3 linked regions of the Homo sapiens genome follow. The protein of the gene in region 3 interacts with the protein of the main gene of each other region in a pairwise test. Each region holds a gene or a part of one and is shown on either strand. Other genes may lie near its edges.

Region 1 (7,055 bases), on a different chromosome or scaffold from region 3:
GTTGTGCGTGTCTTTATTTCTCAATAAGAGTTTCATGGCCCTACCACCTAAAAATGCCACAAAACAACAATCCCACAATCCCATTCAGAAAGTGAATGCATTTAACTTGAAACACGCAGTATAAATCTAAAGGAGCAGGGTCAAATAAATGAGGCTGAGGCTGTGGCTCATACTTGTAATCCCACCACTTTGGGAGGCCCAGGTAGGATGTTCACTTGAGGCCAAGAGCTTGTTACCAGCCTGGGCAACAAGGTGAGACCCCATCTCTATTAAAAACAAACAAACAAACAAACATGAGGCTGAGAAAAAAATGGCAAGGGATATCAAAAACTGTATTTTACATTTTCATTCTGTGGTCCAAAATAGGCACTTACTAGAATGTAAACTTTTTGAGGACCAGGACTGGTATTTCTTTCTTTTTCTTTAAGGGGACATAATTTCATTTTAATGTTTAAAGAAAAAAAAACCACCATAGCTATATGGTGGAGCAGAATGTAAAATCTGCATGAATTTTCAAGATGAAACATGAGACTTGAAAGAAATTCCTTCTGCTTGTGACAGGCAGCTTTGAACTAGATTCTTTGACCTTTAAGTTGAACAAAATACAGCCATCACCTAAGTGGATAATGATAGCAGCCCCGTGGCTTGGGCAGGGTTATAATTAGGTTCTTTTTGTAGTGCAGAATTAAAGCCTAACACAGCAAATTGCTATATTTTAGATATCATGGTATACACAGTGCCTAGAAGGGTCTAATAGTAAAGTGCTCAATAAATGTCTGCCAAATGAATGAATGAATGATTGAATGAATGCCCCAGTCATCCCATGTATTTTTATAAACCTAAGAATAACGCGTGGCTATTTTTTACATACCAGTCCAAAGTTGTAATGAACTAATGAACTTAGAAAGTGTGAGGTCAATTTCTAATTTAAATTAAATGCTTCTTTCTGTCCTTGCTCTTTTTCTCTTCTCTATAATTCTGGGAAGCCTACATATTAAGGTAAGTTACATAGATACAAGCAACTACAAACGTCACGAGTTTGGACCATGGCATCTTAAATCTGGGTGGAGATAAAGTTTTAGTTGGCAAGATCTCCCAAAGCAGTACTGTGAGAAAGTTCTGTAAGGCTGAGTGATTGCTTGGTGAAACTGGTAAGTATTATATAACTCATCTTGTAAGTTCTGATCTTTCCTTTGAAAATGACAGAGTAGTTAGTTCTGGGTTGATACACTCAAGTTAGCTTTCCCTTCTCCATTTTTCCACTTACAAAATGAAGACAGGTTTTGCTTCCCAGAAAAGTTACTATCTTCAGAAGTTCAAAATAAGCAATGTTTGTCAGCCAGTGAGCAAACATGTTTGTAAGTTGATCCTTTTGTGGGTGAGCTCTTTTTATATAACACTTGTTTGAGGATTTACCTGAGAAGGGGCACTGCAGGAGAGCCCAGACAGCTCGCTGATCCGTGCAGCAGCAGTGGGGTTGCTGGAGCTGATGAGGACAGGGGGGCTGATCTCCATGGAGTGGCGGTTCTGGGATGCCTGGGAGGACTTGTTGGCCATAGTGAGGGAAGTGAAGGAGTGCCGCTTTTTGGTGTTCTTCTTGGTGTCGGAGTGCTTTGGGGCAGTGCTGCTCTGGGCTGCTGCCGAGGAACATTCTCCAGCATCAACTCCTGGCACAGGAGGCTTATCCCATTCTATCAGCTGCTTAGCAGCCGAGTTAAACTGCAAAAGCAACCAACAAACCAACACAAGAAGGTTAAACAATTCCTAAGAATTCCCTGAGGTTTATTTCCAACATGATTTCATCCAAAATTTAAAGTCACTACTTTAAAGTTTGCCTATGCAGTGTCTGTTTTTCCCATGTGAGATATCTCTTCTCTCAATATTGGGACTTCATTGTATCTATATCACAGGTAGATATTAAATCAAGAATAAACAATTCCATTGCAAGACTGAAAGAGTAAAAGACAATTTTCTTAAGAATTTCCATAATGTCTGATTTTAAAACTTGCCAATAACAAATGAAAATTTATTTCAGCTCACTGTGAAATTTCGAGAAGAGCAATCAAAATGGTGTATTTATCACCCTTTTCGTGACACCCTGTTGCACAATAATGGTTGGGTATTTGCTCAAAGCACAACTGAACAATGAAGGGGCAACTTCTGGGTTTGGTAAAAATGAGCAAGAAGACAAAGAATAAAACCATTCAAAATGAACTCATGTGCTTCCATGTATATTTACCTCCTGCCTTTCTTTCTGTATTCTGGGAGAACCTCACAAAAAGCTGGCAGAAACTCTTAATATGTTTTTTGTCATGTCATTGTATCAGCTATCATCCTATGTGCACGTACTTTAAATCATAACAGGGTAAGACATGAAATTCAAGTCCTATTGGCAAGTTAACTTCATCTATCTGAAAAGCCCCAGTGTAAATTAAGAGTACCAGGGGTCAAAATCTGTGCACTCCACTGATATTATCAGCAAGAAAGGAAAGAACACAAGCCTTTTGTTTTCCCTAGGGTAAAATAAAACATTTCTGGAAAGCTTCAGTGACAATAAGCTGCATATAACTTTCCCAGATATTACAGTAATGGAAACATAGCTCAACCTCTCAAAAAAAATTGAGATGCAAAATAATAAACTTTTAAAAGGTAACTTAAATATAATATTAAGGAAAACAGTGATTTTTCCATCTCGGCATTACACATTGGGCACTTCACAAATGTCTTTATATAAAATAATATCATGTACTATTTTTCCCACTTAAATTGTTCAGGCTATGTCTTCTCATCCTGTTGATAAGATCACTCTACTAGAAGAATGGAAACTCTCTCAGTCAATATTTTATGAAATGAACTTGCTTTGGAACAACCGCTTCCTCACAAAGCCATGTTAACTGGAGCTCAGCAGTCACTGCTTCTACAGATGATTGCAAATTGACTGACAATTTGTTCCTAAGGCTCCTTGGGGACTCAAATTCAGGTGGCTTGTCTCATCTATAATTAGTAAGATAAATCTTTATCAAACATGACCATATCTCTTCTTCAGACTTTAAGAAGTTTCTCCACATGATAATCATTCAGAAATAATAGGCAGTAACGCCAGAATAACACCTGTCAATGCCTGAAGTACCAATGGCGGGAGAAAGATCATAAAGACTTCTTCCGATATGTGTTTAGGGATGAAAATGAGGTTCTAGTTGAGGGTGGCCCTATTACAAGCATTTTCAAGGCAATTGGCCAGGAGATCCAGAATTTACAAATCCTTTCTTGGTCTAGCTATCCCACCTTGAGAATAAAAAGCCCAAATGAAGCAAAGTAATGCTTTATATTATAGTGGGAGTGGCCTGAACCTCACTGTAGAGCTCTAATAAACTGCAGTGAACCATGGAGGGGTAGGGTCCTCTTTCCTGCACAGGTTGGGTGTAAGGAGCCTGGAAACAAAGCAGATTGAAAAGCTACTTCATCTCCTCCATCCCAAACACAACATCCTCATGAAATGAAGGGCCAGCACACCTGGCAATGCTGGAGAAAAAGGAGCCAGAGAATGTCTTCTTCCACCATAAGCTTATTTAGACACCTAGAAACAAATCTTTGAAAGTGCAAACCTAATCAGTGTGCTGGAAACTGACTGATCAACTCAGCACTCCTGTCCCAGTGAGTAAGAAGTAGAGGAGGGAGTTGAGAAGACTTTCTTCTCATTGAGGCAAAAAATATGAATAGAGGAAACTATCAAATCTAGTTGATATCATGTTTAGATTAATTCTGGGGTCAAACAATAGACTCCATTAGTGGTGCTTGTTTTGAAAGGTTCTGAAAAATTACTATAGTCTCATCATGATCATACCTGGCTGGCCAAGTGTCAGTTATATATTCAACATTGTGTTAGTATTTCAGGTTTCCATATGCTGTGCTCTGGTATAAACATCTGAGGATTAAAATATTGTTCCCAATATTTCCTGCTGCTTTCTCAACAGAACAATACTGGGTGCTTCCTTTGTGTCTTTCTTCATATCATATATTCTCCATTAAAATAAATACACATTGAGCATCTATTTTTGGGGGGACTGGGGGGAAAGGTCTCACTCTGTTGCCCTGGCTGAAGTGCAGTGGCACATTCATTGCTCAGTGCAGCCTCGAACTCCTGGGCTCAAGCAATCCTCTTGCCTCAACCTCCTGAGTAGTTGGGACTATAGGTATGCAACACCACACCCAGCTAATTTTAGTAGCAATGAGGTCTCATTATGATATCTAGCTGGTGTCGAACTTCTGAGCTCAAGCGATCCTCCTGTCTCAGCCTTTCAAAGTGCTGGGATTACAGGCGTGAGCCACTGTGCCTGGACTCTGAGCACCAATTATGTGCTGAATAATGTGCTTGGTGTTAAAGATCTACAAATGCAGAGAAATGATCTCTGCCCTTAAGGACCTTACAAACAGGCATAAAAATAACACAGTGCTTTCCATAATTTCTTATGTCTAGCTACTTTTGCTCAACAATATGCTTTTTGAGATTTATCCATATTGCTCCATGAGTCAGTAGTTCTTTCTTTTAAATTGCTGTGTAATATTCTATTGTGTAAATACACTATAATTTATCTATCCATTCTACTGCTGATTAACATGTGGGTTTTCTTTCCTCCTTTCCTGTCTTCCTTCCTTCCAATAGACAGTGGCTATTAAGAACAATGCTGCTGTGAATAATCTAGTTATGTGTCTTTTGGTGGACATAAGCTCCCATCTGGATATTGGGTACATGTCCAGGAGTAGAACTGCTGGACCATAGGGTTGGATGCTTGGAAAAATTTATGCAGAATCATGTGTATGCAGGTAGACACATCCTGGAGTGGTGTAACAAGCCAACTGGCAAGTAGAAGACCACAGTTCTAGTCCTAGCACAGCCATTACCTAACTTTGGGGCCTTAAGGGAGCCATCTTACCTCTATTGTTCACAGCTTCCTAATCTATAAAGTAAGTTGGAGCCAATGATTTTTAGGTCTCTTTTAGCTCTCCACATGTATAATGCATAATCTCACTTTAAATGGACAAGTTTCATTTTTCTATTTGATTTCTATTCCTCTAAATAGCCTAGCATATTTTTTCTGCATTTGATTTTTATGCATGGACAGTAATATTTGTTAGCAAGATGCTGTCATACTTTAAAATTACTTGAGATTTCTTCTGAAGCAGCACATATTAGTATTAAAAAACACTGCTCCTTGCTTCCTGTATCAGTTCCAGAGAAAATCATAAAGTTAAGACTATTTGGTAGAGGCATTAAGTAAATCAGGCAGAAACATAAAGCAGCTTTTGCTGTAAGTATAGCAACCTTTGGTAACAATAGGAAACCAAGAATCTGATAGCTTTTAGTAGAATTTTGATAAAATTCATGTATGAATGTTTGAGCTCAGTAGTGTGAGCTTTCTGTGACATTTATCTAACTATGACCTTTAATGTTAGGAGTACACTCATCACCTGCAAAATAAATTTGTATCCTAAAATACCTTCTTCCAAGCATTTGGTAAGGAGCTTTGATAAGACTTAGGTTGGATATAAGGTAAAATTCAGTATACTGGAGATAAAAGCAGGGATTCTATTCATTACTCTTAAAATTCTTATGCCCCTTTTTGGAAAAAAGTCTAAAATGTAGAAAGAATGTGTTTTTGAGAGTTATCAGAAGTATAAATAAATATGAGATGAAATACTGACAAAAATAATATTAATAAAAACAACAAGGCAGCTTAAGAAATATTAAAATAAACTTTTTTGTGTGTATGGTTGCCCTCTTTGCTAGAGAGAATATAGCCTTTTTTAAAAGGCGGGACTTACAATATTTTAAAGAGAAAAAATTTTTTAATAAGAACTAAGTTGAATAGTTACTATTTTATAGGAAGCTTTACAGATGAATCAGTCTGTAGCTTCTGAGCACTACAGGATACAAACAGTAGATCTGAGAAGTAATTATTTTAATTCACAACCCACTAGAGCAAGCTTGTCCAACCCACGGTCCTCTACATGTAGCCCAACACAAATTTGTAAACTTTCTTAAAACATTATGAGATTTTTTTTGAGGTTTTGTTTTTTCTTTTCTTTTTTTTTTTTTTTTAAGCTCATCAGCTATTGATAGTGTTAGTGTATTTTATGTGTGGCCCAGGACAATTCTTCTTCCAATGTGATCCAGGGAAGCCAAAAGATTGGACACCCTTGGTATAGAACATTATGAAGTAAAAAGTAAAAGGCCTCAGCCAGTTCCCCACATCTGTCTCTTCCCAACCCACTTCCCAGATGGATTTCCATTTAACAATTTAAAACATATCCTTCATTTTCTATGTAGATGTTGTTATACATGTATCTACTTTATTGATTTTTAATACAAATAAAACCAAGCAATCCATTCTATTCTCTCATGAAATAATATTTCATGAACATCTTTGCATATCAATAGGGATAGGCTGATAGCATGGTATTCCATTTTATAGAGACGTTGCCATTTACTATGTCTTGGCAGGCTCGTACAAGCATATCCATAGGGTAAACTCCTAAAAGTAGAATTTGCTAGATCAAAGTGTAAGTTTAAAAATCGTTTTTTGAAGTAACAAGGTGTATTATATTGTTTTAACTTGTATTTCTATTTATTAATGAGATTAAGCATCTATTTTCTTTTTTTAGGATTTGCTTATTTCCATACTCTATCCATATTTCTATTGGATTGTTAGTATTTTTCTTATAGACTGATATAAATACTTTTTTTTTTTTTTTGGAGACAGGGTCTCCCTCTGTCATTGAGGCTAGAGTGCAGTGGCACAATCTCAGCTCAGTGCAACCTCTGCCTCCCCGATTCAAGTGATTCTCCTGCCTCAGCCTCCTGAGTAGCAGAGATTATAGGCAAGTGCCACCATGGCCCGCCTAATTTTTGCTTTTTTTTTTTTTTTTTTGAGATGGAGTCTCGCTCTGTTGCCCAGGCTGGAGTGCAGTGGCGTGATGTCGGCTCACTGCAAGTTCTGCCTCCCAGGTTCACGTCATTCTCCGGCCTCAGCCTCCTGAATAGCTGGGACTACAGG
Region 2 (7,055 bases), on a different chromosome or scaffold from region 3:
GTGCAGGAAAACAGAGCCCCCAGCGTGCATGGCTTTGTGAGGGGTGAAGCTGCATGGTGCTCCCTCAGCCCCAAGAGAGCGCAGTCTCTCATTCTCCAGCCCCAGCCTTGTGGGCTGTCCCGCTGGTGCTGTCCTTTAGAACCCCTACAGGAGAGTTTTTTGCTCAAAAAGCTGCAGGTCAAAACGGACCCAGACCTCCCCGGTGGGGACCTCATGCAGCAGCAGTCGGCGGGTCATAGGGCCTTTGCTTTCCTGTTCTGTTCGAATTTTTGCCACTGGAATTTCAGTACGACCCAGGAAATCTGGTGAATAAACACAGGAGAGTCAGAAGTCTTTCTTCTTTATAAAATCATTAAAGAGCTACATCCGGAAGAAGTGGATTCATAAAACCTTCAAATCTGAAACAAGGAACTTCTTTTGGCTCATGGCTGTTGAATGTCGTGAGTGGGTGTGTGGGGAATGATGGCAGGTTTGTGTGTGAGAAGCTGCCACATGGAATTCAAATCTCCATTCTGAGAATGCTCCAGGAGTGGTGTTCACGTCGTGTGTGTAGGGAGTGATGGGTCAAAGACCTGAAACACATCTCAGGCCACCTCCTCCCCTGAGGAAGGCCACCCACCTGCTGCCAAAGCGAGATGACACAGGCCTGTGTCACTTCCCTGAAGTGGCATGGGGTCTGCACACAGCTGAAGCCCCTAGATCTGGACTCCAGGATCTAGGAAACTGGGAAAGCCTTTAGATCCCCTGGCTGAGCGACACTTACCATCTGGTGAAAACTGGTCTCTGTCAAACAGGGTGAGACACAGCACGTCTTGGTAGAGATCCTTAATAAAGAACTGGCAGTTAAAATTCCACTTGGGATTGAGTGTGTCCTGGATGGTCCTGGTGGTGTAGCTCTGGGAGCCCATGCTGATTTCACAGTATGGGTTGCTCTTTCCTGAACAAAAACAAACCACAGACACATGTGGTGCATGCAGGTAAAACGAAGCGACTGACAGTGCCCTCCCTGAGCAGAAGCAGGATTCCAATAATGGGTCACTCGAGACCATGGCAGCAGGAGCCGCTGCCTGGGGCACCATATCCCTGTGGTCTAGTAACAGGGTCTCCAAGTTCCCAGTGCTGACAGCAGCATTAACTGGGGAGTGGCCGAGAGCTCCACCGCCAGGACCACTCCGCACGGAACAATCCTGGGTGAGTGTCACTGCAACCTGCTGCATGCTTCCTCGGCGCAGACACACTCGGGAAGGCGGGCACTGGCACTTACTGGGAAAACAGTGATAAGAATATTGGTCCAATATGCGCATTTTAGTGGCACTGGACACACTGTTAGAAAGCATTCCTTTATTCAGTGTTCAGAAGAGTCATCAGTGGCTGGGCGCAGTGGCACTTTGTCAGTGACAAAGTGCTGTAATCCCAGCACTTTGGGAGGCCGAGGCGGGCAGATCACTTGAGGTCAGGAGTTCGAGACCAGCCTGGCCAACATGGTGAAACCCTGTGTCTACTAAAAATACAAGAATTTGCCAGGCGTGGTGGTGCACACCTGTAATCCCAGCTACTCAGGAGGCTAAGCCTTGAGAATCACTTGTACCCCAGAGGCAGAGGTTGCAGTGAGCCAAGATCGTGCCACTGCACTCCAGCCTAGGTTATACACTGAGACTCTGTCTCAAAAAGTCATCAGCAAAAACTGGGGCAGGGCAGTTATGTCTGCTGAATGAATCAAGGCAGTATTTACCATTTGGTTTGCAGGCTTTTAATTCTGTAGCTTCAATGACATGCACCATCAGGCGCCCAATGCCTGAAGTCTTTTGGGAGCGGGCTACAAAAGAGGAAGACAAGTCTCATTAATCTCTTCTCCAAGGATGCAGACCCTGTCTTTCAAACCAACCATAACACTACCGGCTCCCTGTCCCCATCTGCCACTGCCCTGGGCCCAACAGCCCAGCATCTGGCTGCCCTGTGCCTTTCCCCAGGCTGTGTTGCCTGCTAGGAAGCCCCTGCTTGCTCTTTCTGCCCTGCCTGCTTTCTCTGCCCGTCAGCATCCTACTCATCCTTCAAGATGCAGGTCTGATCCCACATCTACCTCCCAGATCCCTTCCCTCCTCTGCATCCAGTATCCCTCGCTTATGAGCAGCCCACAGCCTGCTGGGTCTGAAATCGTGTGTAATGTCTGTCTCCTCTGCCAGACAGGAGCCAGGGTAGAGCATGGACTGTTTCGATCATCCTTATATTAACCCCTCAATTGCCTAGCAAATAGTAATATTAATAAAATAATACATGGTATTTGTGCAGCACTTAATAGCAGCTAACATTTACTGGATACTTACTTTGTGTTAGGCATGTGCTAGACTTATGTAAATTATATTATTTAAACTGCATAATTACCTGATAATGTAGCTCCCCATTTTACTGATGAGAAACACTGAGGCTTAGAAAGGACTGGAGTGTGATCCACTCAGAGCTGCTAAATGGCAGGGTCAACATTTAAACATCAGATACCAAAGTCCAGGCTCAGTTAAGCCTAGCACAGAGCCTGGCACAAAGTAATTGACAAATGTGGGAAGGACTGAACGCACGGACGATGCACAGCAACATATGCAGATGCTGATGGGAAGCAAAACTCAGGCAGAAAAACCGGATTGACATCTTTGGCCAATTAAGAGATCATATGCGTTATGAAATGATCAATCATTGATTTTTCAACAGCAAGCTTTTAAAGTACCATTAAAATAACACTAAATTAGCAAAAGCTGTTTTAAACATACCTTTTAGGAGTATATAACAAAATGGGGGAAACCTGAATAAAAAAACACATAAAGAGCTGCAACTATAGCAGCCAGGAAGCTGGTGGGAGGCCCAGGCAGGAGGGCAGGCTGCATGGGGGGGCCCGGCGGGAAGGAAGGTGGAGATGCAGGGGGCCGGCGGGGAGGAAGGTGGAGATGCAGCTGGCTCAGAGCACAGGCCCCCTGTGGGGTGGAGGCCACAGGCTGGCCTGGCACAGCTGGAGATGCAGCAGGGAGGTTGGGGCCTGGCATTCATGTGGAGGCTGGAGAAGAATGTGGGAGCTCTGGTCTGAAGGCCACGGTGGGGCAGGGTGGGGTGGGGGGTGCTTTACAAAGACCATTGCGGCTCCACTGAGCAGGTGAGTGATCTGTGCCATGAACACAGAGGACATCACCGGTGCAACAAATCTGGAGCCCCACTGGCATAAGTCACATGCTGGCCCCGATGTGGGAGGGAGTTGCCTTGAGGGAGCTTATGGCCATTAAGTGAGAAAAGCAGGGACTGAGAGGGCGCAAGCAGAGGCAACAGAGGATGAGCGCCCGGAGGATGATCGCAGCCTCAGGACAGCGGGGGGTCCAGGTAGAAGTCACACTGGTTAGGGCAAGAGGGTGTCATGGAGGAGGCTGTGTTTGACGTGGGCCTTGAAGGATGGGAAGAATTTAAGGTGAGGGCAGAGCACTTGAGCTGGAGGGGGAGCTCACATGGGAAGGCCAGGCAGGGCAACAATGGGCTGCTCAACTAGGCAGCTGGATGGGCCGGGCACAGGAAAGAGCTAGGGATGGGGCTGGGTGGCAGGTAGTAGTGGGGATGGGCCCTGAGTGTGGGGTAAGAAATGTGTCGTTAATTTGGGAGGCAATAGGGAAGATACTTCAGCAGGAAGAGGTATAAGAGCAGCTCTGGAAAAAAGAATACTCCAGAAATGAAGAGGATGGGTGGCAGAGAGGAAAGAGAGCCTTGTGCTGCAGCCTGGGTGGGAGATCGGGGGCCTGTGATACGGGGACAGGAAAGGGCGATGGGAAAGTGGCGAGGGAGGAGGACTGCAGTGCAGCTGACCAGGTGTGAGGTGCCAGGGAGGGGCCTGGGTGGCCAGGGACCACACTACTGTCCACAGAGGGTCCCAGGAGGAGCTGCTGCTGGAAGGAGGCTGGTGGTCCCTTGGGAAAAGCCGATGTGTGATGTGGGAGCAGCGGGGCAGGTGGTTCTCTGGAGGGTGCTGTTCAGAGGCGCGGGCTTGGGAGAGTGTGGCTAGCCTGACCCTGAAGCTGGGGGTCGGTGGGGTCCCCGAGGGAGAGCGCTACAGAGGTCGGGGAGAGGCCTGGGCAAGGGTGGAAGAAGAACTGGGAAGGCGGCCATGGGGTCCAGAGGGAAGGCAGCGCCTCAGTGACTGCCATCAGTGCAGGGAGCTGGGGCAGGGAAAGTGAGCTGAGCCACTAACTAGGCCACTGGTGTCACTGGTGGGGACAGGACGTGGACTGAAGTCTGGTGAAGTGAGAAGGGGGAGGAGGCAGGGGCAGAAGGATGGGGAGAGGGCAGACTTAGGGTCTAGGCCCCCTGGCTGCAAAGGGAGAGGGTGGATGGCAGGCCCTAGAGGAGGGTGAGGAGGAGCAGTGGCTGCTCAGGAGCTGAAGGGAGACAGACCACAGGTGTGGCATGTAATGGAGCACCACAGCCCAAGCAGAGGTGAGGTGAGTCATGGAGAGAAAGGAGTGGAGAAGGTGCAGTGGAGTGGGGGGGATAGAGGTGGTGCAGAGAGGGAGGTCCCGGAGCTGGCACTGCCAGCCCGTGTCTGTGTGGGCAGGAGCCCCAGGGAGGTTTGCAGTAGTAGCTTCAAGAGGGGAGGGCTCTCTGGTCTGATCCCGCAGCAGGTCTGGTCTTTCAGACCCGTCCCTATATCATCAGCCTGACTGCAGGAGCAGTGGCCGGCATTCCTAGGGCCCCTGGGGGCTGCGTCCCACCCTCCGGGCACCCTGATACCTTGGTAAGCTTTCTCACGCTTCTTCTTCTCGGTGTCGATGTACTGCTCAGACGCCGCCTTGATCTTCTGCACCCAGGCGGTCCTACGGGAGAAGCAGGGGCAGCCGTTGGCCGCATCCCACCCTCACAGGTCAGCGTGGAGCCCCAGAGCTCTGCACATGTTCTTCAGTCTTTTGCTAACCTCAACTTTCACAAGTTTCCTATCAAAGACCTGATATTAGTCAACTGAAAGATGCTTATGCTAATGGAGTATGAGAGCTGGTAGTGACCCTTCTTGGCTGACCACAAAATGCCAGGCACTCGCAAGGCGCTGGGACCTGGAGACAGATGATGCATTGGCCCCACGGATGATACCTGTCACGAGGGGTTCTAGCGCACACAGAGGAGCAGCAGCACCCCCCGGGTTGGCGCCGCGGAGGCACTGTTGGAGCTGCAGCCTGAAGGAAGCTGGGAACAGCGGGGATGGCACCCACACAAGGGCGCCTGAGGGGCGAAAGTCTGCAGGTGGAGGGACGAGGGCTGAGGCCTGTGGCCCAAGGAGGCCTCGGAAACCAGCAAAGCACAGTGGGCTGTCGCCTGCGGGCAGCCCCTGCAGGGACTGTAGCAGGGCCTCAGGTGCTGATCTGCCATTTGGGAAGGCTGCTGAGTGGTGTGGGGAGAGACTAGAAGCCGGGAAGCATGTTAGGAGGCAGCTGCAGTGACCAAGGCCTACCATGGGACTGGAGCAGAGGGGATGTGTTAAGAGAGGTTCAGGATACAGAATTAGTGGGGCTTAAGCACGGCTGGAGATGGGTTTATGGCAGAGGGAGACGTCCAGGCCTTCTCCCAGAGTTCAAGGCAGGCCACACATGGTCAGGACTGACCTCTCATTAATGTTGTCTGTTCGGAGGGTGTAGACCCGATCAATGTGGGAAATGTGGAAGACAGGCTCATCGCTGGAAGGGTCTGTGGGCAGTTTCACCAAGACTTCATTCAGGAAAATGGGCTGAAAGAATTAGGGCCAAAACACAGGCTGTGAGATGGGCTAGAACACTCCACCCGCCTATGTCCAGAGAGAGTTCTGTTTGTTCTGAAGAGCCTTGTTGAGAAGGAGAAAGGGGTCTAGCGTCTAAGGTCTTCTACACAGAACAAATGAAACCTCCATTTGTAAGAACAATGAAGCCTCCATTTCTGGAAAAGTCATTATCGAGGTGGGTCAGGTGTTGGGACTGGGTGGGGACAGGAGCTCCAAGCGCCCATGACGGCTGGTGCAAAAGGCTCTCTGCTAGCAACGCTGGTGCTGTGCTGGGGCTCGGCTTACAGAGACCCAATGCTGAATGCACACAGTGGTGAGCCCAGGTGTCACGCTGGCCAGGAGGAAGCCAGAATCTCAGCTGGAATCTGGCTGATGGCCTGTGGCAGGTGGGGAGTGCCCAGCTGCATGGGGCCCTTCCCGTGGGAAGCAGCAAAGGAAGCACGAGCGATCTGGAACCAGGTGAGGAGGGTCCCGTAAGGCCAGCTCAGGGTCTGCCAGGAAGGCCTTAAGATAGAGGCAACACCTCATTAGGCCCCTGATGCTACCCCCAGACGCGTGATACTCACCGTTTTATACATTTTGAATTGAGCATTGGACTTCGAGCTGAAAAGTTTCTCAGAGCCAGAGGAAACAGCAAACTGCTTGACCATGTAGGTAAGAAGCAGGAAGTCATTGAAGAGGAATCCGTGCAGTTCCTTGTTGCTCTTGGTCTTGTATAATTTCCCACTGTGTAAGAGCTTCCGGGGCCCCAGGCAGTTGGTGAGAGAGTTGAAAATAAGTTGCTTAAAGAGAAAGAAAATTTCACTTTTTAAATCCCGGCACAAACCATCCAGTGCCCCTGAGAGGCCAGTGCCCTGGGCCTGAGGATACTGTGGTGGAGTTTTCTAGGTGGGAATGTGGCTAGAATCATTCACTTTGCATGAAAGATCCTTAAATACATTACTCTTCAGAGTCCAAACTGGCCCAGTGAAAATCATTACTTCTAGCCACAGAACACTGATTCTACCAGCTGAATTCAAAGAACTCAAAACAAAAAATCCCAGTGTTCTCTCCTTAGGAGAAAGGAAGATGACAATCCAAGAAGGAATGCCCTTCATGCCTGCAATCCCAGCACTGTTGGGAGACAGAGGCGGGAGGATCACTTGACGCCAGGAGTTCAAGACCAGCCTGGCCAACATGGTGAAACCCCAGCTCTACTAAAAATACGAAAATTAGCTGGGCATCGTAGCAGATGCCTGTAGTCCCAGCTACTTGGGAGATGGAGGCCAGAGAATCGCTCCAACCC
Region 3 (2,769 bases):
ATATACCCTCTGTGTTACAAAAGATAAATGCTAACAAGGAGTAAAATCCAGCCCCCTCCACCTTATTAATATGTAAGAAGACTGAAGTCACATCTGTGCAAGGATCTATTTTTAGTGGACCCTACATACTAAAATCCTAGCCTTGATCTCTTAAACTATCAAGCCTACCATAAATGTTTGATGATGAACAAGCCCATAAAAAGAAAATGCATAAAATGAATAGAAGGAGCCAATGCATGCTCTGCTTTTTAATTACCGGTGGCTTCTGCTAAAATCCTGCTCCAGGCTGGGTTTGAGCAGAGAAACACGTCAATAATTTGGGTGGGGGTGGCTGGGTGTGGACACTGCAAACAAATACATCAAACTATACCGTTATGTATGCTTTGGAAGCCAGATACAAATGGAGGAAAGAGTAGCATCATACCCACAAAGGGTGGGGAGGAGAGCAGCTTAAAAAGGAAAAATTAAGAGATAAATAAAAGCATTCAGGACACAAAAGATAATATAGAACAGTCAGGTTTTATTACTTTTAAGTAATAAAGAGCCTTTTCCTTGCTTTTCTTTTTTCCCTTTTTTTCTTTTCTTTTTTCTTTTCTTACAACATACATTAAGTCGTGAATCAGATGTTAGGGGATGTGGAGATGGAAGGAAAATTGGTGACATCACAATATTTTTACAACTTTACAACAAATATAAATCTGAGTTTGTTGCATCTACCAGTGTCTAGCAAGGGTGGAAAGCAAAGGCACACTCGGGTTTATGGACCCTCCCCCCACACACAGTGGGGAAAAAAACTGGGGAGAAATACTTAAATGCAGAAGACCAGCTCAATACATGTGGGTATTTTAGGGTTAACACCAGAAGTGATGGGTTGTGGGGGTGTAGGAATGTGGATGTAAGTTTTGACACAGGTCTCCTTAACAGCTGAGGCAGTGATGCCTACAAACACTGGACAAGACAGCCGCTTACGTCAATGATGGGTGCTGCACTGCCAGTACTCTCGGGAGTCAAGCATGGGAAAGAAGGGGGCAGGGGGATACAGACCCATCACCTTCCTAATTTCTGCATTTCTAGAGAAAATTCAAGGAAGAAAACAATATTTCAGGTTCTAGGAAATACTTCAGGGTTTCAGGAGACAGAGTTCACAGGATGTGAACATGGATTCCATTACAAAAGCCAAAAAAAAAAAAAGTAAAAACAACAACAACCACCTACTCCTAAACAACAGCAAAACTAATGGACTTTTGGAACAAAGGGCTCTCACCCACCCTCAGCTAAGTACTCAGGTCTGAAGGCAACCACACTGATTATGGAGGCTCCACTTTTTCACTATCCAACTCAAAACTGTCATTGTCAGTCTTTTTTTGAATTCTTTTTAAAGACAAAACTAAACCCAGAAGATCGAACTGGAAATAAAAGCAGACAAAGAGACCACCAAATATACTGTTTAAAAAAACAACAACAACACTGCTCATGGTTTACAGTATGTGGACAGTTCCTTTGTTCATGATAGAGTAAACAAAAGTCCCTTTTGTGTGCTTGAGCAAATGAAAACCAAGAGGAGAAAAACACACACCACCTCCCATCCCCTAAAAACATAATTAACAAAATAAAAAATAAAATAAAAAATCCTTTGCCCCAGTCAACGTTTTTGCAGCATCCATTGTGGTCGGCCTTGTACTTGGAGTTACTCGTTAATCACAGCAGGGACCAGCCTGCCTGCATCTATTTCCATGTCATTTCTTTGTGTGCACTGCACGTGTGTGCTGTGCACATGGCTTGGAGACTCCTCCCAGGTGTCTGCCCAACCGCGCACCGCCTGCTCTCTAGCCAGTGGACGCAGCAGAAAAGAGGAATGGGACGTTAGTCCCTTTTCTGCTAGCAAATAAGGATATCACCGTATTGAAATAATCTAAGGGAAGCAGGGAGCTCTTGAGGATGAAAGGGGATTTGACACACCCACAACAACACTGGGGTCCATGCTTCGCAGCACAGCCAAAGGGTGGTTCCAGTTGGCACAACTAGAAGGCAGTGTGAATTGGAGGGTGTGGTGCTGCCCAGCGTTCTCAGGCTGTCGCATGACAACTATCACCACTGCATTCTTCCATCTGCTTGACTCCAATCTTTCAGAGGGCTGGAAGTGGGGCAGAGGGTGGGGAAGGGAGGGTTAAATAAATATCTGCACTTATTTCAAAAGGGGGAACAGTTGATCATAAAGAGTTTACAAGTGTACACAACTCAAGGTGTAAGGCACAAATTTACATGTGGAAAACAGGCTATTCACAGATGTAACCCCACGAAGAACCCGTGTGATCAAATCATTAATTTATGCAAGGTAGCAGCCAGCATATTAGTTCACACCATTTGTGGATTTTGTTTGCTGTCTCACATGCAAGGTGAAATGGGATGGCATATTGCAAGCTGGTGCCTTCACAGAAAGTCAGAACCATGGACAAAACCATGTTGGCATCAATGAGATATGATGTGCCATTCTAAAAGCTTTCTCTCCTGATTGCTTTAGAAATTAGGATCTGGAAGGACTTTAACATGAATTAGTTTTTTTGCATGTTTATAGGCCAGAGACCTGACCAGGCAATGAACTGATAGATTTAAATAAATATTCCCCTCCTAACTTTTTCCTTTAGCTACAGACCAGACAGTCCAAACACAAAGCTCAGAATTCCAGCTCCAACTTATTTACTCAGTGAATTTATTGTAAAAATAAAGAAACTCAATTATTCCAGTTAATGGATTTCACGTTAAATAGTT

Evidence for each region. Proteins that work in one complex are often made in the same cells at the same time.
Region 1: the proteins of SEMA6A (region 3) and SH3RF1 interact in a two-hybrid assay, tested with the Homo sapiens proteins (one study listed by BioGRID and IntAct).
Region 2: the proteins of SEMA6A (region 3) and ITSN2 interact in a two-hybrid assay, tested with the Homo sapiens proteins (one study listed by BioGRID and IntAct).

The regions. Positions count from the first base shown.
Region 1 is NC_000004.12:169,134,902-169,141,956, forward strand, and holds part of SH3RF1 (E3 ubiquitin-protein ligase SH3RF1), read right to left. Parts: intron 1,720-7,055; coding exon 1,417-1,719; intron 1-1,416. UniProt on the Homo sapiens protein: Has E3 ubiquitin-protein ligase activity. In the absence of an external substrate, it can catalyze self-ubiquitination. Stimulates ubiquitination of potassium channel KCNJ1, enhancing it's dynamin-dependent and clathrin-independent endocytosis.
Region 2 is NC_000002.12:24,203,482-24,210,536, forward strand, and holds part of ITSN2 (intersectin-2), read right to left. Parts: intron 6,553-7,055; coding exon 6,337-6,552; intron 5,741-6,336; coding exon 5,619-5,740; intron 4,839-5,618; coding exon 4,756-4,838; intron 2,795-4,755; coding exon of another isoform or gene 2,766-2,794; exon of another isoform or gene 2,763-2,765; intron 1,817-2,762; coding exon 1,733-1,816; intron 938-1,732; coding exon 764-937; intron 303-763; coding exon 145-302; 3' UTR 1-144.
Region 3 is NC_000005.10:116,443,055-116,445,823, forward strand, and holds the end of SEMA6A (semaphorin-6A isoform 2 precursor), read right to left. Parts: 3' UTR 501-2,769; downstream 1-500. UniProt on the Homo sapiens protein: Cell surface receptor for PLXNA2 that plays an important role in cell-cell signaling. Required for normal granule cell migration in the developing cerebellum.